4 linked regions of the Homo sapiens genome follow. The protein of the gene in region 1 interacts with the protein of each later gene in a pairwise test. Each region holds a gene or a part of one and is shown in the gene's direction. Other genes may lie near its edges.

The links.
Region 2: the proteins of NAB2 (region 1) and DGCR6L interact in binary tests that used the Homo sapiens proteins (3 or more experiments, as listed by UniProt).
Region 3: the proteins of NAB2 (region 1) and PHOSPHO2 interact in binary tests that used the Homo sapiens proteins (3 or more experiments, as listed by UniProt).
Region 4: the proteins of NAB2 (region 1) and RINT1 interact in binary tests that used the Homo sapiens proteins (3 or more experiments, as listed by UniProt).

What each region holds. Positions count from the first base shown.
Region 1 is NC_000012.12:57,092,084-57,095,982, forward strand, and holds the end of NAB2 (NGFI-A-binding protein 2), read left to right. Parts: intron 1-364; coding exon 365-498; intron 499-833; coding exon 834-885; intron 886-979; coding exon 980-1,112; intron 1,113-1,323; coding exon 1,324-1,515; intron 1,516-2,528; coding exon 2,529-2,638; 3' UTR 2,639-3,393; downstream 3,394-3,899. UniProt on the Homo sapiens protein: Acts as a transcriptional repressor for zinc finger transcription factors EGR1 and EGR2. Isoform 2 lacks repression ability.
Region 2 is NC_000022.11:20,317,041-20,324,620, reverse strand, and holds the start of DGCR6L (protein DGCR6L), read left to right. Parts: upstream 1-4,560; 5' UTR 4,561-4,632; coding exon 4,633-4,742; intron 4,743-4,821; coding exon 4,822-4,982; intron 4,983-7,580. UniProt on the Homo sapiens protein: May play a role in neural crest cell migration into the third and fourth pharyngeal pouches.
Region 3 is NC_000002.12:169,689,457-169,697,474, forward strand, and holds the start of PHOSPHO2 (pyridoxal phosphate phosphatase PHOSPHO2), read left to right. Parts: upstream 1-5,012; 5' UTR 5,013-5,166; exon of another isoform or gene 5,167-5,285; intron 5,286-5,758; 5' UTR 5,759-5,791; intron 5,792-7,904; 5' UTR 7,905-8,018. Other genes in the region: CFAP210 (cilia- and flagella- associated protein 210), read right to left, coding at 4,805-4,871. UniProt on the Homo sapiens protein: Phosphatase that has high activity toward pyridoxal 5'-phosphate (PLP).
Region 4 is NC_000007.14:105,563,194-105,568,206, forward strand, and holds the end of RINT1 (RAD50-interacting protein 1), read left to right. Parts: intron 1-539; coding exon 540-754; intron 755-1,930; exon of another isoform or gene 1,931-2,083; coding exon 2,084-2,264; exon of another isoform or gene 2,265-2,336; coding exon 2,337-2,455; intron 2,456-3,129; exon of another isoform or gene 3,130-3,925; coding exon 3,926-4,118; 3' UTR 4,119-4,260; coding exon of another isoform or gene 4,261-4,297; 3' UTR 4,298-4,484; downstream 4,485-5,013. Other genes in the region: EFCAB10 (EF-hand calcium-binding domain-containing protein 10), read right to left, coding at 2,356-2,422, 4,274-4,297. UniProt on the Homo sapiens protein: Involved in regulation of membrane traffic between the Golgi and the endoplasmic reticulum (ER); the function is proposed to depend on its association in the NRZ complex which is believed to play a role in SNARE assembly at the ER.

The sequences.
Region 1 (3,899 bases):
ATCTTTCATTATCTCTTGACCAGGACCCCAGGCCCTGATCCCCTCCCCAACAGGCCCCTACCCCAGCGGCCGCAGTGCTTCCATCCTCAGCTGAGGGGGAAGCAGAGATACAGGCAGCACCGAGCTGTTCAGCTCCTTGTCACTCAGGACCCCACAGGAGAGGAGGAGGCCCCGGGCATTCCTAGGAAGCTGTGGGTGCTGACCTCTGTCTTCCCACCTCAGAAAGCTCCCATGTAGTGTCAAAACCAAAGCAAGCGTCTGATGGATGGGCCTCATTTGTCCAATGGTGAAGGGGTGTGAGGAGGTCTGGTGAGGCAGCGGGGAAGTTCGAATTCTGACTCTCCTGGCTGCCCTCCCTCCACAGCTCACCATCAACGAGGCTGCTGCCCAGTTCTGCATGAGGGACAACACGCTCTTATTACGGAGAGTGGAGCTCTTCTCTTTGTCCCGCCAAGTAGCCCGAGAGAGCACCTACTTGTCCTCCTTGAAGGGCTCCAGGTGAGACCCCTTCCCCAGGTCCTTCCTGGACTGGAATCCTGCTATGGAGTTAGATCATGTCCTAACCTTCAGCTCAGGCAGCTCTAGGCCTGCTTCCCGCCCACCTGGATGTCCTGCTTTTGGCCAAGTCAGCTTGTCTCAGGTCTGGTCTCTCCTCCCATCCATGTCGGGTCCCCCCAACCCCCTACAACAATAGTGCTTGAACTAGAGACTCTTTCTCGGCCAGCTTCTTGGCAAAGGTTTTAAATAACACATGCCTCTGGCTGGGTTCTGTGCTCTGCCAGTCGAGTGGCCCTCGTCAGCCTCATCCACTTTATTCTTACCCATCTTTTCAGGCTTCACCCTGAAGAACTGGGAGGCCCTCCACTGAAGAAGCTGAAACAAGAGGTATGTTTTCCGGGGTGCATATAGGGGCACTGGGCAGCCTTCCCCAATCCCCTCCCTTGGCAGGTCTTCATTTCCCCATGTTGGGCATCCACAGGTTGGAGAACAGAGTCACCCTGAAATCCAGCAGCCTCCCCCAGGCCCTGAGTCCTATGTACCCCCATACCGCCCCAGCCTGGAGGAGGACAGCGCCAGCCTGTCTGGGGAGAGTCTGGATGGACATTTGCAGGGTGAGTGTGCCTCAGAACACTTTTCTCTTCATTGAGGGTGGGGGAGTAGGGGAGGGGGTTGGGGGAGGAGTGAGCCAGGAGGCAGTGCCTGAAACAGGGTTGGGAGACCTGGCTGGAGGGGGGGCAGAAGGGCCTGTGGGCTGGCTATGTGGTTGAGGGTGGGGGTTCCATTGGCTGCAGCCCCTTACCTGACCAGTGCCCATGCCCACAGCTGTGGGGTCATGTCCAAGGCTGACGCCGCCCCCTGCTGACCTGCCTCTGGCATTGCCAGCCCATGGGCTATGGAGCCGACACATCCTGCAGCAGACACTGATGGACGAGGGGCTGCGGCTCGCCCGCCTCGTCTCCCACGACCGCGTGGGCCGCCTCAGCCCCTGTGTGCCTGCGAAGCCACCTCTCGCAGGTGAGGCAGCCAGCAGTGCTGTCCCCAAGCACCCCGGCCACTCAGGCCCCACACAGCAATTCTGGTGTCCTGGGGCCAGGTGGGAGGAAGAGGGATATAGTCGTCAGAGAGGGCAGTAGGATGGCTGGGCTCCAGCCAGCCAGGCCTTGGGGTGCAGAGAGGCAGACCCTGCCGAGCTGCTCCCACCATGGAAAGTCTGGTCCTAGTGTAGATCTGTGAAAGGGGAACTGGGGAATGGGGGGACAGAGAAAAGAGGATGAAGGAGCAGGAAGGAGGAGCATCAATAAGGGAAGCTCAGATGGCACTTCCACCAACCCAGGAGTGGGGAGCAGGCTAGGAGTTGTGGGTATGGGGATGGGGATGCCCAGCTTGGAAGCAGAGGAGCCCAAAGCAGTGATGCTTTGTGTGTGGAAGGGGGAAGAGGGAGTGGGCAGGCGGAGGGCCGGGCAGCCGCTGGGCTGAGAGTGACGCAGCAGACAAAGCCACCAACCCTGGCTTGGTATTTTTAAACTGTGCGTGGGTGGGAAGTGGGGGCGGGGACTGGAAGGGGGGCTCTTCTTGAGGGAGGAGCTCGGAGGCTGGCTTCCTGTTCTCCCTCTGATTTGGCTACCAAAAAACTTGGGGGGCCATGGTAGAGTGGCCTGGGAGGGGCCTGGGAGGGGGCCAGGGATGAGTGGGGGTGGCAGAGCTTGGGAAGGGGGGAGGGGAGAGGTCAGAGCCAAACCACCCCCGCAGCTCCTGACAGAACCAGAAATTCCAGCGCAACCGAGGAGGCGGGAGAGAAAGAGAGAGAGACAGACAGAGACAGAGCTACGCACAGCCAGGGAGGGGAGGGGGCTCACACACATGGGAATGGAACCCCCCATACACATGCAGTGGGCAGGAGGCAGTAATTCAATAAACCTAAACTGAGCCCATCTTCACAGCTTTCTTTGCCCCTGCTTCTGTTCCCAACCACCTCTGTCTGCAGCCAGTCACCCTGCAGTCTCCTAACTGCCCCCTTTTCCCTGCAGAGTTCGAGGAAGGGCTGCTGGACAGATGTCCTGCCCCAGGACCCCATCCCGCGCTGGTGGAGGGTCGCAGGAGCAGCGTGAAAGTGGAGGCTGAGGCCAGCCGGCAGTGAGGGTTGGACTGGTGTCTTCAGACCCAGGACCTCAGACTTCTGGCTCACACAGACCCCCACGCTCTCCATCCCCGGAATCTAGTCACAACCCTGGATCCTTCCTCTGCCCTTCTCCTGCCTCCCCACCTGCTCCATGGGCATAAGACTGTGGGGCTTCAAGCAATAACAAGCAGAGGCCTGGAGAGAGGACACAAGGAGGGTGCGTGGTGCCCTCACCCCTGCCCAGAGCGAGGGGGCAAGGACTCTGCCTCCAGGGCATCTGGGGTTTTCCCCTCCCTCACACAACACACTCCCATTCTCTTTAGGTTTGCACCAGTGGTGTGAGCAGTTGGACTCAGTTTGGACAAGGGGGAAAGGGGGACTTCCCTGGGAAGGTCCAGCTAAAAGTGGCAACATTTGCCCCCAGAATTGGGGGCCTGGGAACACTGGACCTGCTCCTTCTCCCCTCTCCTTCCCCGTTTTTGTGCTTCTGGTTTGTTTCTTTAATTAATTTAACAAGTGCTGCAGTTTGCCCTCCCATTCCCATCTATCCCCCAAGTCCTTTGCAATTTCTTCCCTGCCCTACATAGGGGCGGTGGGTGTGGGATCCCTTCACTGGCCCCCTCGGGAGGCCTGGGTTGGACTCAGGGTCTCCTCCAGCTGGGGGCTGGACCGCAGCACCTATCTGAGCAGTTAGAGCGTCTTTCTTTTCAGATTGTGTACAGTAGATTATTTATTTTGTTATTTTGGAATAAAATTTATTTTATGGCTTAGGATCTATGACCCCTGCCTTGAGAGGGAGAATGGGATAGGGGAGTGAAGGGAAGCTGGCGGTGGATGGGGCAACAGAAAAGATGCAGCAGGCAGGGCCCTCTCATACACTGGAGGGCCACATGGCCAGGCCTGGACCCAGACTCTCACCCTGGCTCCCAGGCAGCATTGGAGGTGTGGAGCCATACGTAGATGTCACAGCCACTTGGACCCACTTGGGCACAGTCAGACTCCAAATTCAGAGTATTTGGGGGTTAGCATATGTCAGAGAGGCCAGCACACTTGCTGCTGTCTTCTGTGCAGTGTCTCACCCTCCCAAATTTGTGTTGTCACGTAGGCAAAAGCAGATAGACACATGTTCTATGTGGTCATGCAACTAAGGTGCCAGCTATACATTTAACATATCCTAGGTACATACACGTTCACACAGCTATACACGAAGAATCTCAGCCCTTGTACTTTTGCATAGTCTCATACACGTATCAGAAGCCTCCACCTGGCTAACAGGAAT
Region 2 (7,580 bases), on another chromosome or scaffold:
CTGTGAAATTAAAGCCAGGACATTTGAACCCGGAAGGCAGAGGTTGCAGCGAGCCGAGATTGCACCACTGCACTCCAGCCTGGGCAACAGAGCGAGCCTCCATCTCAAAAAAAAAAAAAAAAAAAAAAAAGACAGAGGTTGCTCTCTGAATGCCTGAGGGATTCAGGGCTGAGTCCACCAACATTGTTTCATGAAACTCTACTCAGCCAGCCAGTGGAGGCATCATGTATACAGTCAGCACTCCACATATCCTCACTTCCTGAGCATCTACAGTGCAAACCGACACACTCATCACACTCAAACAGCACATGCCGCACGTCAACCCGAGCCTCCCTCACAGGTTGCTTTCATCTCTTTTTCTCTCTTCACTGCAAGTTTTTTGCCCAAATGCAATTAGACACTTTTTTTTACAGAGACAGAAACCAAAGAGTTTTAACTAGGCACCACTACAGCAGTGGCTGTTGACCATCGTCTCCTGGCTGGAACCAGGGAATCCTGTGGGTGAGGGAGGAGCAATGCAGCAGCCCCAGCTGACTCACTCTGGGGTGGATGGATGGATTTACTCACTTACTTACTTATTTATTATTTGATTCTTGTTCTGTTGCCCAGGCTGCAGTACAGTGGTGTGATCTCAGCTCACTGCAGCCTGGACCTCCTGGGCTCAAGTGATCCCACCTCAGTCTCCCAAGTGGCAAGTAGCTGGGACTTCAGGCACATGCCACTATGCCAGCGAATTTTTTAAACTTTTTGTAGAGACAGGCTCTCACCCTGTTGCCCAGGCTGGTCTTGAACTCCTGGCCTCAAGCCATCTGCCCATCTTGGCCTCCCAAAGTGCTGGGATTACAGGTGTGAGTCACCACACTCAGCCCACTCAGTTTTGAGTGGCCATTTGCTTTGACTCAGCAAACACTTCTGATGGTAACAAAGCACCAACTGGGTGGCTGGTTTCAATCCTACTCTTGCCACCCAACACCGCAACATTTTATCAACCTGGAGCAAATGCTCTCGGGTCCTGAGGAGCTGGCCACACAGCCCATTTTGCTGGTGGGACAGTGGGAAGCCCCGCCCTCCTCCCATCCCACACCACTTAGGCAAGAGCTGTGCCTAGGAAATGTCACCCGTAACTGGTCCGCACAGACCCTGTCTTCTAAAAGGGTGCTGTGCCTCCACCAGACCCCATGAGCAATACATTTGTCAAGCACACGCAAGACATGCCAAGGCCAAGGCCTGACTGATTTGACAGTAAAGACACAATGAGCCCCTCTCATTCAGACCTTATTACTCACAGAGTGAAAATAAGAGAAGCCTGAGGTGGCAGCTCCCTGCTGTCCTGGTGCCACACACTAAAAAGGACAACACTGAAACAAAAGGGGTCAGAGAGCATGCGTTGCGGGACACCCACTGTGGAGGAGCCCCTTGACACTGCAGCTGGGTGGCGTCCTCATCTGCAGCTCTGTTTTGAGGGCCGGGGGCAGGGAGCCTCACCCTCACCAGGGCCAGTGAGGCAGGAAGTGAGGAACAGTCTCGGGAGACAGACGGAGTGAGCGGTGGCCTGGGTGCAGCCTGATGTTCTGGGAGGAGCAGGCTTAGGTCAGGTGCTGTGTGCACCTCTGCATGGCCTATGGGGATCCTGCAATGGCTCAGGGCCCCACAGCAGAGCTGTTTCTCCGCCCACACAACAGACATACAACCTGACACATGAAAACTCACAGAGAAACACAGAAAGGCACATGTGACAAAGAGCCACACAAAAGGCATGCAGCAAAGCCTTTTGACACACGTGCGCGCACACACACACACACACACACACACACACACACAGGCACCCACTCCTTCAAACCTTGGTGTTTGCCCAGACACAGCTGTGTCAGAGACAGGGGACCTGCAGCTCCCCAACACACACCAGTCACCCCACACTAACCCAAGGTGTCACCAGCCAGCCTGGTGGACTCGGGAGGCCAAGTGGAGGTGGACAGTGGCCGCAGAGCAAAGGCCTTCGGTGGATACCACCCGACGGGAAGAGCCATGGGGCCCATCGTGTCCACACACACAGGGGAAACGCACGTCTGCGAACCAGCTCCCCCATTCCTACACATATATCACCCATCCCTGGGGCTCTGGAGGATGAGACCCCTCCTTCCAGACCAGGCCCTCCCTGAAGACCCAGAGGTGGCCCAGGAGTCCCCATGCCTGAGTGACATACTGCTCATGTCCATGAAAAAGAAAAGGAACTTTGTGTGTGTGTGTGTGTGTGTGTGTGTGTGCGCGCGCGCACAATGGAAGTTTATATATATATGTATAAAGTATATATATATATTCATATATATATTCTTTTAAGTTCTGGGGTACATGTGCAGAACGTGCAGGTTTGTTACATAGGTATACACGTGCCATGGTGGTTTGCTGTGCCCATGAACCTATCATCTACATTACGTATTTCTCCTAATGCGAAAGGAACTTTTTTATCTGAGGAATGTGAGCTCCCTTTAATTATCTGGCCCAGAGAGGCACTGGAATGAAACAGCAGTCACATCCCACTCCTACTTGAGCTAACGACCTCTTGAAGCCAATTGCTCTGTGGGTTCCAGACTGACACCAAGTAGGCATAAAAAGCCATACGCTGGACACCATAACTCTTACCCAGTAGTCCAACACCTTATAGCCAGTCACTAAGGGTTCTCTCTGGAAAGCAGTCAGAATTCCTGCTGACTTCATATCAGCCCACTCCTTGTCCCCTTCAGTCTTTAAAAACTTGCTTGTAATAAGGCTGAATGAAGCACTCCCAGGGCAACTTGGTGTGTCCTGGGCAGCTCTCTCAGCCTTGGCCCAGACAAACTCTCTATATGAACTGTGGTTCAGTTTGTTTCTTTAGGTTGACATCCACATTAGGGGAGCAGTGTTGCTGGGCTGGGGAAGCTGGTTCAGGTCAGACGTTGCACCAAGGGTTGGAGAAGGGGCCTTCCTGCATCAGCACCCGGACAAGGCAGAGGAGCAGGTGTCCAAACCCAGGCCTGGCCTGCTCCTGCTGTGGCTCACAGCCCCCACCCCACCTGGCAGACCCCGGAGCTGGCGACAGTGTTGCCCAGCTGGCCACAGACATATCATCACGTGGGGCTGCCCTATATCCTCCCAGTCTCCACACAGACACTCTTCATGGACTGGGGGACTGAGGGCAGGGACACTGGTGAAACAGGCAGGCGTCTTCACCCAGCTAATCATCCCACTCACCACCTCCGGGGGAGGTGACAGTGACCAAGCCCAGCCCCAGCTGGCTCCTGGTCACTCACTACAGACTCAGCTCCCACAATCTCGAGTCCCACCTCCAGCTCCTGCCATTCTGAGGGACCTGGAGGCCAGGGTGCCCGGCGCATGACCAGCTCTGGGTTGTGGACCGCCCTCCACGGCAGTGGCCTGAGCGCTTGTCATTATTCACTTTATTCATGCCTGGTTTCTGTCTGGAAGGGACCACAAGGACATGGCGTGCAGGGGAGCCAATCCTGCCAGGGACTGAGGAAACAGATCCTGGAGAAAACCAGACACTTTGCTGGCACTTCAGGGGGACCCCAGTTGGTTGGCTCAACGCCCCCTCTTCCCCATAGCCAATTACTAACCAATGTTCTCTCTGGAAACCAGTCATAATTCCTAACCTGGTCAAAGCAGGGTCATCTCACACAGCCCAGCCACCCAGCAGGCAGCTAAAGAGTGCCTGATGAAATGCAAGTCTGATCGTGTCTGCGTCCCCAAGCCCTTCCGTGCCCCCTGCTGCTCTATGGACAAGCCCCCAGCAGCCTCTGTAATGCACAGCACCCGCCCTTGTCTCCTGTGCTGGCTTCCGCAGCCTGGCCACACTGGTCCTCTCGCCCACCCACCTGACCTGACTCTGGCAGGGCCTTTGCAGGAGCCATTCCTCCACCCGAGCCCCTCCTATTAAAGCCTGTTCCTAGACGGTTCAGCCCCAGCCACCAGAAGCCCCCCAGCCCCGGCCCAGCAGCTGGCCTGTGGAGCGGGGAGAGCGCAGTCTGGGCTCACGGGCTGGGGGCCACGGAGGCCCAGATGGGGACTCTGGCTCCGACTGTCCTGACCCAGAGGCTCTAGGGCGGTCCTGTCTGTCTCACCCCGGGGGCGGGGAGGACGCAGACAGACCCCAGCGCCACTGCTCGGCCGCGGATGGTGCCTTAGACCCAGGTCCTGTGGGCTCTGGCCCGAGACCCCTGCCTCTGGGGAGGCCGGTGACCGGGACAGTCCACCTCGCAGGCGCGCCGGCGCGGAGCCCGGACCTCGGCCCGCAATGACTCAGCAAGGGCCGGTGGGATTCTCCGTGGTCCTGCGATATCCAGACGGCGGAGTCTCGCCTTTAATGTCGCGCGGGGAGCAGGCAGGTGCGAGCCTGGGCTGAGCAAAACCCTCCTTGGAGTCTCCGCAGAGGAGCGGGGCGCGCCTCCTGAATAAGCAGGCGGCGGGGCGCGGGGCAGGGCGGGGCAGGCGGCCAGGCCCTCTCGGGACTGTCGTAAAAGGGGGCGGAGCGCGCCGCGCGTGGGACAATCGTAAAAGGGGCGGGACGCGCCGCGCTCGGGATGTCGTGAAGCTGGGGGAGCTCGTCGCCGCCGCCGGCGGCTAGCGGGCGTCCGCGCCATGGAGCGCTACGCGGCCGCCTTGGAGGAGGTGGCGGACGGTGCCCGGCAGCAGGAGCGACACTACCAGTTGCTGTCGGCGCTACAGAGCCTGGTGAAGGAGTTGCCCAGGTACGCAGGCGGGGCGGGCGGAGGCCTGCGGAGGCGGCTTCGTTTCCCGCCGGGGCTCACCGCGCCCCCCTACCCGCAGCTCTTTCCAGCAGCGCCTGTCCTACACCACGCTCAGCGACCTGGCCCTGGCGCTTCTCGACGGCACCGTGTTCGAAATCGTGCAGGGGCTACTGGAGATCCAGCACCTCACCGAAAAGAGCCTGTACAACCAGCGCCTGCGCCTACAGAACGAGCACCGAGGTGCGCGGGGGCAGCGGGATGAGGTGCCGCCTCCTCCGGGTCGGCGCCTCCGGGCAGCTCTTGGTATCTGTGCAGATCAGCTCCTTCCTTGGAAGTGTTCGGAAGAGGTCTCTAAGATTGACAAAATCAACGGGCGCAGAGACTGAGACAGCGCCTTTTTGGTGATCAGTGGGTCCAACCAGTTTTGTTTTCAGTTGCGCAGCACCCACCTTCTTAGCAGAAACTCCCTGTTCGGGCTTCCCTGTGCCCCACGCGCTTCCAGACAGGATGGCCCTAGGCCTCGGTGCCTGATTGGCCTGCAGGCAGACTCTGGTGGTGGCGCTGACTGCAGCAGCATTGCCCCTCAGTAGTTGGAAGTCTGTTGACAGTTGTGCAGCAAGCGTCTTTCAGGGTCAGTTCCCTCTCAGGCCTCGCAGGGCCTCATTCCAGTTGCACATCAAATTCCTAAGCACTGTCTCCTGTGGCGCCCTCCCAAACCCGAAGAGCTTCCCACTTGAGCCAGGCCTGCTTGGTGGGCTTGGGAGCCCTTTCCTGCAAATTATATAGGGCAGGTCCCCCTGCACCATCAGTTTCCACCTTTGTTATTTTTCCCAAACTTCTTATTTTAGAAGTTAAAACATTTAGAAAAGCTGAAAAGATAGTATAGTGCATACGCTTGTGCTCTTCACTAAAGTTCAATAGTTAACGTTTTGCTCTAGTTCTTGACATCCCAAAATATATACATGTGACAGCATAGCATTCACCAAGAGTCTTCAGCATTCCTGGAGACCAGGATTTTCAACCCAGCCATGCTGACATTTGTGGCTGGGTAAGTCTTTTTGGTGAGATGCTGTCTTGCGCATTGCAGGATGGCAGGGGTACCCTCCCTAGTCCTGAAAACCAAGAATGCCTCCAGACAACCTGGGTGGTGGGGTCAACCTTGGCCTTGGATTGGGAGCAAGTGCTCTAGAACAAAACTGGTCTCCTACACAGCTGCAGAAGGTAGCCCCCTGAGAAATTAACTGTTCCGGGTGTCTCCTGACTTTCAGTGCACGGCCACATCATGGTACCTAACTTGTGGCAAATTGTTGCTTTATAAGTAAGGATCCAGTCCAAGTTCATGTACTACAATTGGTTACTTTGGTCTCTTTGCTTCTGAAACAGTCCCCAACATTTATTGTGGCATTGACTTTTTTGTAGAGTCCAGGGCATTCTAATTTTATAGAATGCCCTGCTCTTGATCTATCAGACGAAATGCTTCCTCTTGCATTTAACCTGCTTCTCCACTCTCTGGGTTTCCTGTACACTGGACTGCTGGTAGAAGCCTGATTAGAAGCAGGTTTAATGTGGCAAAAATTTCTCCTAGCAGTGCAAGGCCCCCTTCCCCAGAAGGCAGGCAGTGTCCATCTGCTCCAGGATTGGTGTGTTTTTATCAAGAATGGATGTTGGATTTTGGCAGTTCCCTTTTCGGCAGCTCTTGAGATGATCACGTGGTGAATCATTTTCTATTACTACAGTGAATTACAGTCACTTGAATTCCATCCTACTGGGTCGTGCTGTAGTATCCTTTTTATGTATGCTGGATTTGATTTGCTAAAATCTTAAGAATTTTTTGGTCTATGTTCATGATAAACTGTGGTCTATAGTTTTCATGTAATATCTGGTTTGGGTATCAGGGTTTTTGCCAGCCTTATAGGATGAGTTTCGAAGTGTTCTCTCCTCTTCAGTTTTCCAGAAGAGTTTGTGTAGAATTGGCATTACTTCTTCCCCTAAATGTCTGGGCGATTGTCTTTTTAAAATTTTTTATTGAGCTGTAAGATGTATGTAGTTTACTAATCCCAAGCGCATGGCTCATTATTCCTTAATGCCCAGACTGTGCCATGTGTGGCCAGTTGGGGGCGCTCCAGGCACCTTTAGATGCCGCCCCATCATTCTGTGAGCACTTTCTTGCTTTCTGGTTCAGGTATGTGTTCAGGCTCATCTTTTCTTGTTTTCTCCGTGTCTCAGTCCTGGAATCGGCCATTTTTCCACAGAGCTATAGTTCCTTATAGCAGGATGGGGAGTTTTAGTAACTGCCTGGGCCCAATGCTGTTTGTGCTTCAGAAGGTTTGGGCCAGGCCCTGGTTCCACCAGCAGCAGGCATGCCTGCATTGACTTTCTGCTTCTCCTGCTGATTTGGCAGGGGCGACTGGCTGCTCCTGCCTCCTTTGTGTTCCCTGGTCATGTCTAAGGCCAGGCCCCTTCTGCCCAGGCAGCCAGCGTGGCTCTCTTCTTGCCTTTTGGTTGTCTATCTAGTGGAATCTGGTAGTGGACCTGGCACTTGTAGCAATGTTTGATCAGTAGAGTGAAGGAGATGACATTTCCCTGCTTCCCTGTGTTATGGAGCTGTCTTGAGGGGGGCTTTTGGTAAATACCATCGTCGAGGTGTGTACAGAATGTGAAGAGACAGGAGATCGGGGAAGGCTGTAGGCACAGCGGGAGCCAGGCTACCTGCAGGGGAGCCTCAGGGGCCCTGGAGTTCCCTGGGGACTGGCCACCAGAGAAGAGCTGCAACATCAGGGCTCTTCCCAGGAACAGAGTGTTGGGTTTCACCTTTTCTTTTGGCCAGGGACCCCTCCC
Region 3 (8,018 bases), on another chromosome or scaffold:
GTAAACTGATCATCTTTCAATGCCACTAAACTTTATTAGATCTTATAAATGTTTAGTACATTCTTTAGGATTTTTAATATAGAATATCATGTCATCTGTGAATATAGAAAGTTTTATTTCTTCCTTTCCAATCTGGATGGCCTTTTGTTTTGCTTGCCTAAATGCCATGGCTAGAATTTCCAGTATGATGTTAAACAGAAGTGACGAAAGCAGGCATACTTTTCTTTTCCTGATCAGGGTTTCAGTCTATCACCATTAACTATGATGTTAGCTATGGGCTTTTCATAGGTCTCCTTCATCAGGTTAAGAAAATTCCCTTCTATTCCCAGTTTGTTGTTTTTATCATAAATGGATGTTAGATTTGTCAAATGTTTTTTCTATTAGGATAATCATGTAGTTTTGTTCCTTATTCTATTTACACAGTGTACTACATTAATTGTTTTTAAACCAACCTTGCATTCTTGGGATAAATACCACTTGGTCATGGTATATAATAATTTTTTATATGTTGTTGGATTTGGTTTGCTAGTATTTTATTTAATTAATTAACTTATTTTTTGAGATGGGGTCTTACTATGTTGCCCAGGCTGGAGCGCAGTGGCTATTTACAAGTGTGACCATAGCACATTACAGCCTCAAATTCCTGGCCTCAAGTGGTCCTCCCACTTCAGCCTCCCAAGTAGCTGGGAGGTGTGTGCCACATCTAGCTCATGTGCTAAAACTATGTTGAAGATTTTTGCATCTCTATTCATAAAGGATAATGATCTATAGTTTTCTTGTGATATCTTTGTCTGATGTTGGTATCAGGGTAATACTGCCCTTATAGAATGAGCTGGAAAGTGCTCCTTCCTCTTATTTTTTAAAAAGTTTTTGAAGGATTTATGTTAATATTTCATTAAAAATTTAGTAGAATTAGCCAATGAAGCCATCTGGTACCCAGTTTTTCTTTGTGAGAATTTTTTCAATTAATAATTGAAGGTGGGATCACCTGAGGTCAGGAGTTTGAGACACGCCTGGCCAACATGGCGAAACCCCATCTCTACTAAAAGTACAAAAATTAACCAGGTGTGGTGGCGGGTGCCTGTAATCCCAGCTACTCAGGAGGCTGAGGCAGGAGAATCACTTGAACCTGGGAGGCAGAGGTTGCAGTGAGCCGAGATCATGCCACTGCACTCCAGCCTGGGTGACAAGAGCAAGACTCTGTCTCAAAAAAAAAAAAAAAAGAATTCTTGAAGACTTTTTCTTTCAGTAATTTGAATATATTAGCCTGCTGCCCCTGGACTCCATAATTTCTTATAAGAAATTTGTTGTTAATCTTATTGAGGATTACTTTTATGTAATGTCATTTCTCTTTTGTGCTTTCAAGATTTTCTCTGTCTTTAGCTTTCAACAGTTTGATCATGATGTGTACAGCTGTTGATCTCTTTGAGTTGAGTTTACCATACTTAGAGGATCACTGAGCCTTTTGATTGTGTGATGTTTTTCATCAAATTTGGAAAGCTTTTGGCCATTAATTCTTCAAATTTTTCTACCCCTTTCTCTGCTCTTTTTCTTCCAGAACTCGAGTTACATTTATGTTGGCATATTTGCTGGTGCCCTACATTTCTCTGAAGATCTGCTCATTTTTCTTCATTCTTTTATCTTTTTTTCTTTCTCATTATTCTGAGACTGAATAATCTCAATTGACTTATCTTCAAGTTCACTGATTATGTCTTCTGCAAGTTCAAATCAGCTATTGATCCCTCTAGTTAATTTTTTAATTCAGTTATTGTGCTTTTCAACTCCAACATTTCTGTTCAGTTCCTTTTTATAATTTTTTTAAATATTCATTGATATCCTCTATTTGGTAAGACAACATTCTTAATACTTTTCTATAGTTCTTTAGACTTTTGTTTTAGTTCTTTAAATATATTTACAATAGCTATAAATTTACAAAAGTTTGTATCTAGTAAATCCAACATCTGGGCTTACAACAACTGCAACTGCACAGTTTTAGGTCAGTTGGGGGGGCAGTCTCTGATTTCCTATCTTTTGTCCACCCCTACTTCTGTAGACATCCTCCCCGCCACTTCCACTCCCCCTTTCCCTCTTCCACCCATTCAACTGAGCACAAAATGGCCAGACTTCCACAGAGCCAAAAGATGATTATTGAGGATGCTTTCAACTTGGTGGAGTCCATTTCAAAGACACTTTCTATTGAAACCTTTTTCTTGTGTTTGGGTCATACTTTATTTCTTTTCATCTTTCATAATTTTTATTAAAAACTGTACATATATGTGTCAACTCTGGAAATCAGATTTCTACATACACCCAAAGTTTCTCATTCCTGCTGTTGTTGTTTGTTTCAGGACTTCTCTGAACCAATTCTGTAGTCTGTATTCTTTGTCACATGTGGCCACTGGAGTCACTGCAGTCTCTGGTTTGCTTAGTGGTCAGCTAATAACTAGACAGACATATCTTTGGATGACTGGAACTAACAAGTCTCCCAGTCTTTGCCAAAGGACTGTCTATGAGTATTAAGGCATGCCTTCAATGCTCGGGCAGGCAATTTACAACTCCATCTTAGCCTCTACTTCTTTCTTAAACAGAGTCTCAAGGTAAGTCATAGGTGAGAGGCATTTGCAGGTCTTTCCTGGGCATATACATAGCTCTATGCATGCACTTGGCCTTCTAGATTCCCAGGAATATGTCAGGAGCTTTCCAAAGCCCCCTATGGACATATCACTTCCCAACTGATCCTTTTAAGATTTTCGGTCAGCTTGTTGTTTGCCTCCCAACTGTATCACTGCCTGCCTGTTTCATGCTGTTATAACAGAATACCTGAGACTCGGTAATTCATAAGGAATAGAAATTTATTGGCTTATGGTTCTGGAGGCTGAGAAAGCTAGTATCGAGGTGCCAGCATCTGGCAGGGGCCTTCTTGCCGCATCATAACATGATGGAAGGCATTACATGGCAAAAGGGCAAAGAGAGGGCAACAGGCGCACGCACACACACACACACACACACACACACACACACACACCACACAGAGACAGAGAGAGAGAGAGAGAAAGAAGAGGGCCAACTTTCCCACTTTTATAATGAACCCATTCCCCAGATAATGGCATTAATCCCTTTACTCTGCCCTCATGGCCTATCACCTCTCATTAGTCCCTACCTTCCAACATTTTTACATTGGGGATTAAGTTCCCACACATGCCTCTGATAGCTGTGATATTTAAAATTGCCACTGAACATTTGACAAACATACTTGGTGAGTTTGAAGTCAGACTAAATAACAATAAGCCTCATGAGTGAGATTTTCCAAGGAACTATCAAACATGTCGAATAATAACAGTTGTCTGGCTTTGGAGTGGGTCAAATTCTGTTTTGTCCCCTCTACCAGTTGCTAAGTCACTATTTTTCACTGTGATTACTGTGGTTATCTAGGCTGACACGGGGCTGGGAGAAAAGTATAGGACTATGGCAAGTTAAAATGCCAAAAACCTTGCTGTTGTTACAAAAATCCAGCTGTTTTTCTTTAGTAAACACTCTACAAATTGTTGCAAGCCTTTGGTTAATTTCCAGAGTTCTGAAAAAGTCGATATTGATGATTTTTGCCACTGTTCTTGTTGATTTTATGGAGGAGAGGATTTCAGGCATAGATCCTATTTCACCATTCTGGCTGATGTCATCCCACTAAATCTTTATAAATTATTTATTTTACTAATAGCTGCACACATCTCTGAACCTCTCTCCAACTTAGCCTTCCCCTAAAAATGGAGATTAAAATTTAGCAGTGAGGCTCAGGTGGAAGCTTTTGAGCTAGTTGCCACAAAACATTATTTAACAACTATTAGGTAAATCTAAACCAGGTAGTGCAGAAATGCATATGCAGGAAAGTGAATGTGTGGGACTAATTGTGCTTTTCCAAAACTGGCCATGTTGGTACTGTTTCTTTCCTTTTACATGGCAAAAGTCCGCTGCTAACCTCATAAAACCTCCACTGCATAAATATCCACTAGTGAAGAATGACTGGCTGTCACTCTGCATCTGGTGCAGGGGGCACTATTGCTACAGAAGCTCGGGCAATGACATGAAGATACTTCAAATTGCCAAAGTTCTAGTTGTCACCATGACAACATTAATTGCTAATTTACAGACGTAAGAAACTGTTGTAGCTAGAATTGATAGAGTTCTTTAGAAGTCTATTTCTATTCCAAAATCAAATTGTTATAACAGGTCACCTGAATTACAGTACTTTATGTCACACGATTTTTTTTTAACTCTCTAAAAGCATTTGACTTAGAGAGAGACCTTATATTTACTTTAGAGAGGAGGAAATGGAGATATTTCCTTCAGAGACTTTTAGTAAAGACCAATCAGCAGGTTTGCAGAAGAGCCAAGCCTCTAAAGAGGTGACTTATATTTCCAAGAGATATTCCAATTCAATCAGTGAATAACAAACTTTAAGCGTGCGGGAAATTTAACAAAACCCAGACTCTCAGAGCTGCAACTGCGCAGTTTTAGGTCAGCTGGGGCTGGGGGTGGGGGTCTCTGATTTCCTATCTTTTCTCCACCCCTATTTCTGTAAACATTCTCCCACCCACTTCCACTCCCCGTTTCCCTCCTTCACCCATTCACCTGAGGGCAAGACGGCCTAACTTCACACAGAGCCCAAAGATGCTTATTGAGGATGCTTTCGACCTGGTGGAGTCCATTTCAAAAGGCAACTGAAGCCCTCATTCGGCATCCTCGCCTCTCACTCCATGCCGGGGGTCCAGAAACAATCCCTGTCCCTGGATAGGTCAGTTTAGCTCACCTGTACTTTCCTTCGCCCGTCCACAGCGCCGTCCAAACCGTACCAGCATCTCTGACGAGGTGTCCATGATGCTCCTAGATCTGGAAAAGTGACTGTGGCGCCAAGCGCCGCGGACGCCAGCCGGTGGAGTTGTTACTCGTACCACGCGGTTGCTTGGCAACGCCGCCGGAAGTGACGCCAGCCGTAGCCGAGGAACAAGGGAGGTGCTGCAGTTGGCGGTCGGGCTAGAGAAGAGAGGCGCCTGCGCTTGCGAGCTGGGCTTGTGAGTGGGGCTGCCGAGAGGGCAGGCGTGGGGCGAGGCCAAAGGACTGAACCCGCAGGAGCGTCACGGGCGCCGGGGCGGCTGCCGACGGCGGGACTGGGTCAGTGAGAAGCCCGTGGGCCCCCGCCCTGCCTGCTACTCCCATCCCCACCTGCGCGCTCCCCATGGGGGACGACCCCCGATTGGGTCCGATGCCTACCCTCGGGGTGGAGCCGGCAGGTGTGTGAGCGCGCGAGGCCTAGGCGTGGTGTGTGCGTCCGCAGATCTCCTCGCGGGTGGAGTGTGAGGAGCAAAGCCCTCCCTTAACTATAAAAACCCGCGGATTCGCTGACATAAACGCTGTTTTTTTAATCCTTTGGTTTCTGAGGCATGGTCAGGACTAGATGGGGCCAAGTTTTTTAAAAATAGGAATGTTAAAACGTAATGATATGCTTAGAATATTTACGTTAGGACCTTTGAGATATTTTAAATTTCTTGGTAAATACATGACCACAGAAATCTGTTAGGAGTAGCTGCGCGTTTGGTTTCAAAAGATGCTTTTCTAACACATTGATGTACAGATAACTTCATTACTAACAAGTTGGCTCTGACGTGTACACATAATGCACCAAATTGGAGTCTCTCAAAATGAAAGAACAAAAAGATTTTTAATAACGAATGTTCTAACACATAGTCGTGCTATTTTTCTTTAGGTTTTCTATCAGATGTTCCACGTAATAATGCTGGTAAGTATGGAATAATTAAGAAAATATTTGAAGACAGAAATTAGTTTGTGCACATACAGCGCTGGTAGGTTTTTGGAACTATACCTTAAAAAGTGTCAAGAACTGGGGGCCAGGCGCGGTGGCTCACGCCTGTAATCCCAGCACTTTGGGAGGCCGAGGCGGGCGGATCACGAGGTCAGGAGATCGAGACCATCCTGGCTAACACGGTGAAACCCTGTCTCTAGCAAAAATACAAAAAAATTAGCCAGGCGTGGTGGCGGGCGCCTGTAGTTCCAGGTACTCTGGAGGCTGAGGCAGGAGAATGGCGTGAACCTGGGAGGCGGAGCTTGCAGTGAGCCGACCATCGTGCCACTGCACTCCAGCCTGGGCGACAGAGCGAGACTCCGTCTCAAAAAAAAAAAAAGTTTCAAGAACTGGGAAGGAACAGAGATTTTTACCCTGTTTGCAGGCTAACTTAGCCTGGCAGTTTCATGGAAGACACAAGACTATTCATTTCAGGAATGAATTACTCCCAGCAGTAGCCAGTAAATCAGCAATTTCGCCTGAGTTCCCTAAAGCCCCAGTTCCCACAGGATAATGCAAAGTGGGCAAGAAGTCACCTAGATGTAGTGTGTGTCGAATTACAGGAAAGGAGCCCTGAGCTTAGGGAACCCAGATCTTTATCATTTGGACAAATAAGCATGTTTCTCAAGGCTGTCCAGTGTACAAACATCCTTGAGACAATAGTCTAGAGGAAAGGGCAGTCAGTAAGACATGCAGAACCACCAGAGACGCAGGGAAAATTGTCTCCCAACAACAATTTTCTGGAATTTTAACAAAATTGGTTACAAAAGTATTGAATCTCATGATTTGATGTCAGTTACTTGCCAATTTGACATGGTGGTCAGATATAATTTGACTTCAGACTCGAGATTCCAGCTCCAACCTGTGGATTGTCACAACCAAGTCAATCTAGAGTTATTTGTCCTATACCCACCACTCTTTTATTTCTTTGTTGTGAATTTAATAAGGTAGCATATGCACTCTGATCTGAAACAGAGTTTAAATTATTCTGAGAAGAAAAAAATTTTATTACAAAATTGATGTAGAAAAAGTGTGAACTACGGTTGAACCAACCATAACCATCCCACTGCACATGTAAACATTTTCTAAAACAAAAACAGGATTATACTGTACACACTATTTTGTGACTTGCTTATTTAATTTGAACTGAATATCTTGGCTTTTACTGGCTGGATATTCTGTTATTTGCTATCACATGCATATCTTACTTAATTATTTCCCAATTCTTGGATGTCTGTGTAGTTTTTAATTTTCATTATTGTGTAAAGTATGCAGGATATTGTTACACTATGGAAACATTGCAGACATACCAAATAGACATAGATTGTGCTTTTGAAGAGAACAGTTAACTTTTTGGAATTTTAACAAATTGGTTTCAAAACAGATTCACATTCTTAAAACTAAATCTTTGTTCATATTCTTAATTTTTGGAGACATTTTAATTTCTAGTACAGCACTAAATGTCTATTGACAACAGAATGTGGAACTCCTCTATTATTAAACAAGTACAAAGAAAAAATGGACTCTGAAAATCTCAATCAGCTTAACACTGATTTTATCCACTGGACAAAAACTTATTTTCACATAACATTTCTTATTTTCGACACCAAGTCGATACCAAGTGGAAAGCAAAACTTTGTTCTCCTATTGCCAAAAGATGCTTTTCTGACATTAGAAAAACAACATAATTAGAAAATACAAAAAAAAAAATTTTTTTTTTTTTGACACGGAGTCTCGCTCTGTTGCCCAGGCTAGAGTGCAGTGGCGCGATCTCGGCTCACTGCAAGCTCCGCCTCCCAGGTTCATACCATTCTCCTGCCTCAGTCTCCCAAGTAGCTAGGACTACAGGTGCCCGCCACCACGCCCAGCTAATTTTTTGTATTTTTAGTAGAGATGGGGTTTCACTGTGTTAGCCAGGATGGTCTCCATTTCCTGACCTCGTGATCCCCCGCCTCGGCCTTCCAAAGTGCTGGGATTACAGGCGTGAGCCACTGCGCCCGGCCTGAAAATACAAATGTTAAAGCTTTTAAAATACTTTTATTAATTTTAGGAGTTAAGAAGTTTCCATTATTTTGCTCCAAACCAGAAGACTCTGTTCCCTGTATATAGAATAGGAGTAATATTTGAAAACAACTGGCTGATGTTTAAAACTGAAGATTGTCAT
Region 4 (5,013 bases), on another chromosome or scaffold:
GTCCAGAACAGGCAAATCCATTGAGACAGAAAGTCAATTAGTGGTTGCCTATGAGTTGAGGGAGTGGGGAGACGGTATTAGAGGATAACGGCTTTTTTCTTGGTGATGAAAATGTTCTAAAATTGTGATGGATATACAACTGAATATATAAAAAAATCATTGAATTATACACTATTATTAGTTTTGAGATGGAGTCTCACTTTGTCGCCCAGGCTGGAGTGCAGAGGCATGATCTCGGCTCACTGCAACTTCCACCTTCCAGGTTCAAGCTAGGATTACAGGCACATGCCACCACACCCGGCTTATTTTTGTATTTTTAGTAGAGTTGGAGTTTCACCATGTTGGCCAGGATGGTTTCGAACTCCTGACCTCAGGTGATCCACCCACCTCAGCCTCCCAAAGTGCTGGGATTACAGGCATGAGCCACCGTGCCCGGTCGAATTATACACTTTAAATGGGTGAATTGTATGACATATGAATTCTATTTCAAACTGTTAAAAAAAAAGTATGCTAATGTGTTAACATGTTTTTGCTTTCAGTTCTTTCTACAACTTCAACAGGCTGCACTGGAGGTGTTTGCAGAGAATAATACTCTGAGTAAATTGCAGCTAGGACAGCTAGCCTCTATGGAGAGCTCTGTCTTTGATGACATGATTAACCTCTTAGAACGTTTAAAGCATGATATGTTGACCCGTCAAGTAGACCACGTTTTTAGAGAAGTTAAAGATGCTGCAAAATTGTATAAAAAAGAAAGGTATGTCCTCTATGTAAGTCAGCTCTTAACACCAGTTTGGTAAAAGTTAAAGAATATGTGGTCAGATTTTCAAGGTGTCTAGATAGAACCCGGTTTGGCCTTATGTACTTTATTGTTGATGGAAATATTTCTAAAGTATGTTCTCTTGGACATTTTTTTTGAGACAGTCCTACTCTGTCACCCAGGCTGGAGTGCAGTTGCACGATCTTGGCTCATTGCAACCTCTGCCTTAGAGGTTCAAGTGACCTTCCCACCTCAGCCTCCCAAGTAGCCAGGACTACAGGCATGCACCACCACACAAGGCTAATTTTTGTATTTTTAGTAGAGATGTGGTTTCACATTTTGGGCAGGCTGATCTCCAACTCCTGACCTCAGGCAAGCCACCTGCCTCGGCCTCCCAAAGTGCTAGGATTACAGGTGTGAGCCACCACACCTGGCTGACATTCTTAATCAGAATAAACTGATTATAATTTAGTTGTTTGTAAATATATCAATAGGATAGTGTGTGATCTGGGGTTGAATAGCCTAACCTGTCTCCCATTTTGCAAAGTAAAGTGCACCTGTGGTACTCTGCATACTTTTGTTGTGGTTTATCCCACTACCATTCACTGTGAACACCTGTGTTACTTTCATCCTTGATAGCAAGCAGTATCTTTTTGTCCTAGCATAGTCCCTGCCACACAGAGTGCTTAAAATTCGTTTATTAGTCCTGTTTTTACTAAAAATTAGAGGATAATATTAGCTGATGTCTTAATTAAAATGCTAAAATCAGGCTGGGTGCAGTGGCTCACACCTGTAATCCCAGCACTTTGGGAGGCCAAGGCGGGCAGATTACTTGAGGGCAGCAATTCGAAACTAGCCTGGCCAACATGGCGAAACCCTGTCTCTACTAAAAAATTCAAAGATTAGCTGGGCGTGGTGGTGGGCACCTGTAATCCCAGCTACTTGGGAGGCTGACACGAGAATTGCTTGAACCCTGTGGCTCTAGCCTGGCCAACAGAGCGAGACTCTGTCTCAAAAAAAAAGAAAAACTACATAAATAAAATGCAAAAATTAAGTGACATTTTAAATTGTAATTGCCTTATATCAGTAATTCACATATTAAAATTTGGGGATATTTTGGATATATCCCCATATTAAAGAGTATTTGAGAGTGAAAATATAAATACAGGTACATTTATTTTCTGATAGAGCTTTTAATGTTAGGCTGTATATTTTTTCTTATCCAAAATGCCCTAGGACAGAACACTTCCTCAAATTTAAAATGATTTAAAAACTTGAAAAATAGAAACTGATGAAAATTTTTTGGTAAAAATGTGTTTTTTCCAGATGGTTGTCCTTGCCATCTCAGTCAGAGCAGGCAGTGATGTCCCTGTCCAGTTCGGCTTGCCCGTTGCTGCTGACGTTACGAGACCATTTACTTCAGTTGGAGCAGCAGCTTTGTTTCTCCTTATTTAAAATTTTCTGGCAAATGCTTGTAGAGAAGCTGGATGTATACATCTACCAAGAAGTAAGTAAGAATAGACTGTTTTTGGGCTGTGATAATAAAGACAACTGTTATATGAATTATTCTTTGTTTCAGATAATTCTTGCTAATCACTTCAATGAAGGAGGAGCAGCCCAGCTGCAGTTTGATATGACTCGGAATCTTTTCCCTTTGTTTTCTCACTATTGCAAGAGACCAGAAAATTATTTTAAACAGTAAGCTCAACATTTAACAATTAATATTAATGTATCAAATTGTTACAGGAGGCTAACTCCTTTTAACTTTAGGGTTCTGGAGATGTTTGGGTGGGATAAGATCAGTTGAAATTTTAAAACATTGTCTATCTACTGTATGCTTACAGCACAATGGGGAAACCAAGATGATAGATGTGACCCATGACCTCAAAAAGTTTCAGAACTAGATATAAATTACCTGTTGGGTTTTGTTTTCTAGTATTTGGTTTAATGCTTCTAGTTGCTTAGTTACTGGAGGAATAAATAGAAAATGAAAACAAGTACAGTTGTGCCCTATTCACTAAATATAAGAAATTACAGGGCCGGGCGTGGTGGCTCACGCCTGTAATCCCAACACTTCGGGAGGCTGAGTTGGGCAGATCACAAAGTCAGGAGATCGAGACCATCCTGGCTAACATAGTGATACCCCCATCTCTACTAAAAATACCAAAAAAAAAAAAATTAGCCAGGCCTGGTGGCGGGCACCTGTAGTCCCACCTGCTTGGGAGGCTGAGGCAGGAGAATGATGTGAACCCGGGAGGCGGAGCTTGCAGTGAGCCAAGACTGTCTCAAAAAAAAAAAAAAATTACAAATATGTTTAATACCTAATAGGCCAGGCCTGAAAGAAATTTGTTTCCTTAAACATTTGACATTAATTTTGGTTCTAAATATAATTATAGTTTCAGAATTTGTTGATCTAAAATTTATAGGCCAGGCATAGTAGCCCACATCTGTAATCCCAGTACTTTGGGAGGCAGAGGTGGGAGAATTGCTTGAGGCCAGCTGTTTGAGACCAGCCTGGGCAACATAGCAAGACTCCATCTCTACAGAAAGTATTAAAATGAACAAACAAAAAAAAGCCAGGTGTGGGGGTGTGGACCTGTAGTCCTAGCTACTTGAGAGGCTGAGGCTGTAGTGAGCTATGATCGTGCAGTTTCACTCCAGCCTAGGTGACAGAGCAAGACCATGTCTCAAAAAAAAAAAGTAAAATTTAAATTATGTTTGGGTTTTGTGAGGTTATAAAGCATTCCTTTTAGACTTATAAAATGAAAGCTTATGTTTACACGTTTCATAGGACTGTTTTTAAAATTTATTTTAATGTTCTTTCTGCTGCTTTCATTTATCTCTTATTTTTGTCTTTTCCCATGTTCTAATCTACCTAAAGTTATAGCTATATTTAATATAGTGTTAATATTAAGTATTGTATTTAGGGAAATAACGGATACATATTGAAATAGGGATCGTATTACCTTATAGTAATCTAAAGAAATAGCAACTCTGCACCTGTGTAGTCTTACCATGTTAAAAGAACCAAATAATAAATCCATAAATATTTTTATAGAGAACATGTGGACCAGCAGTGCAGAGAAGCTGTTTAGGATTCTCAAAATTGTAATATAATTGATGCAGATAATGGAGATCTCATTTCCCTCCTTTGTTTTCCCTAAACAGTATAAAAGAAGCCTGTATTGTTTTGAATTTGAACGTCGGTTCTGCACTACTGCTGAAAGATGTACTGCAGTCAGCTTCAGGGCAGCTTCCTGCCACAGCAGCATTAAATGAAGTTGGAATTTACAAACTGGCTCAACAAGATGTTGAGATTCTACTTAATTTGAGGACAAATTGGCCTAATACTGGAAAATAATGTCTTTCAGAAAAAGGTTTCTTTGGTTTTTGTTTCTAAGAAAGAGGAAGCCAATTGGATTTCAAGTTATATGATGAAATTCTGAATTAATGAAACTGGAAAACTTTATAGAATTACTTATTATCTTGGATTTATGGTGTTATTAAAATGCTGACCATATTTCCTTCATCCTCTTGTTCCTAAGGAAACAAAAACAGAAAACGAAACAATGAAAACTCAATTCTATTTACAAGTATAAATGCTGAGTATGTCTGTTGAAGACGAGCAGAGATATTAAATTATAACCAACTTTCAATTTCCTGTGCTAATTAAGGGAAATTCTGTTGTGGATAATCAAACATAGCCAATAAATTTTTTTAAAACTCCCTTTGAATGCATATTTGTAATTGAGGCACCTGTATCTAGTTTGGGAATTAACTGTATTTCCATGAGGAAACTGGCAGGGCACAGTGTCTCATGCCTGTAATCCCAGCACTTTGGGAGGCTGAGGTAGGAGGATTGCTTGAGGCAGGAGTGCGAAAACATCCTGGCCAACATGTCAAGACCCTGATGCATGCCTGTAGTTCTAGCTACTTGGGAGGCTGAGGTGGGAGGCTAGCTTGAGCCCAGGAGGTCAAGACTACAGTGAGCTCTGATTGTGACACGGCACAGCAGCCTGGGCAAGCGAACAAGACCCTGTCTCTAAAGAACAAAACAAAACACATTGTGAGATGGTGAATAAGATAGGATTGTTCTTCATTTCTCACAAATGCCCTTCTATTTTAAATGCTTCCTAGTTTCATTCTGTGTGACAGTGGGCAACCCTTTCTTTCTGGATGAAACATTTCAGGCCATGGCACTCTGACTCAAACATTCCCATGTGGTAGGGAATGTAATTAAACATTTTTATTATTTA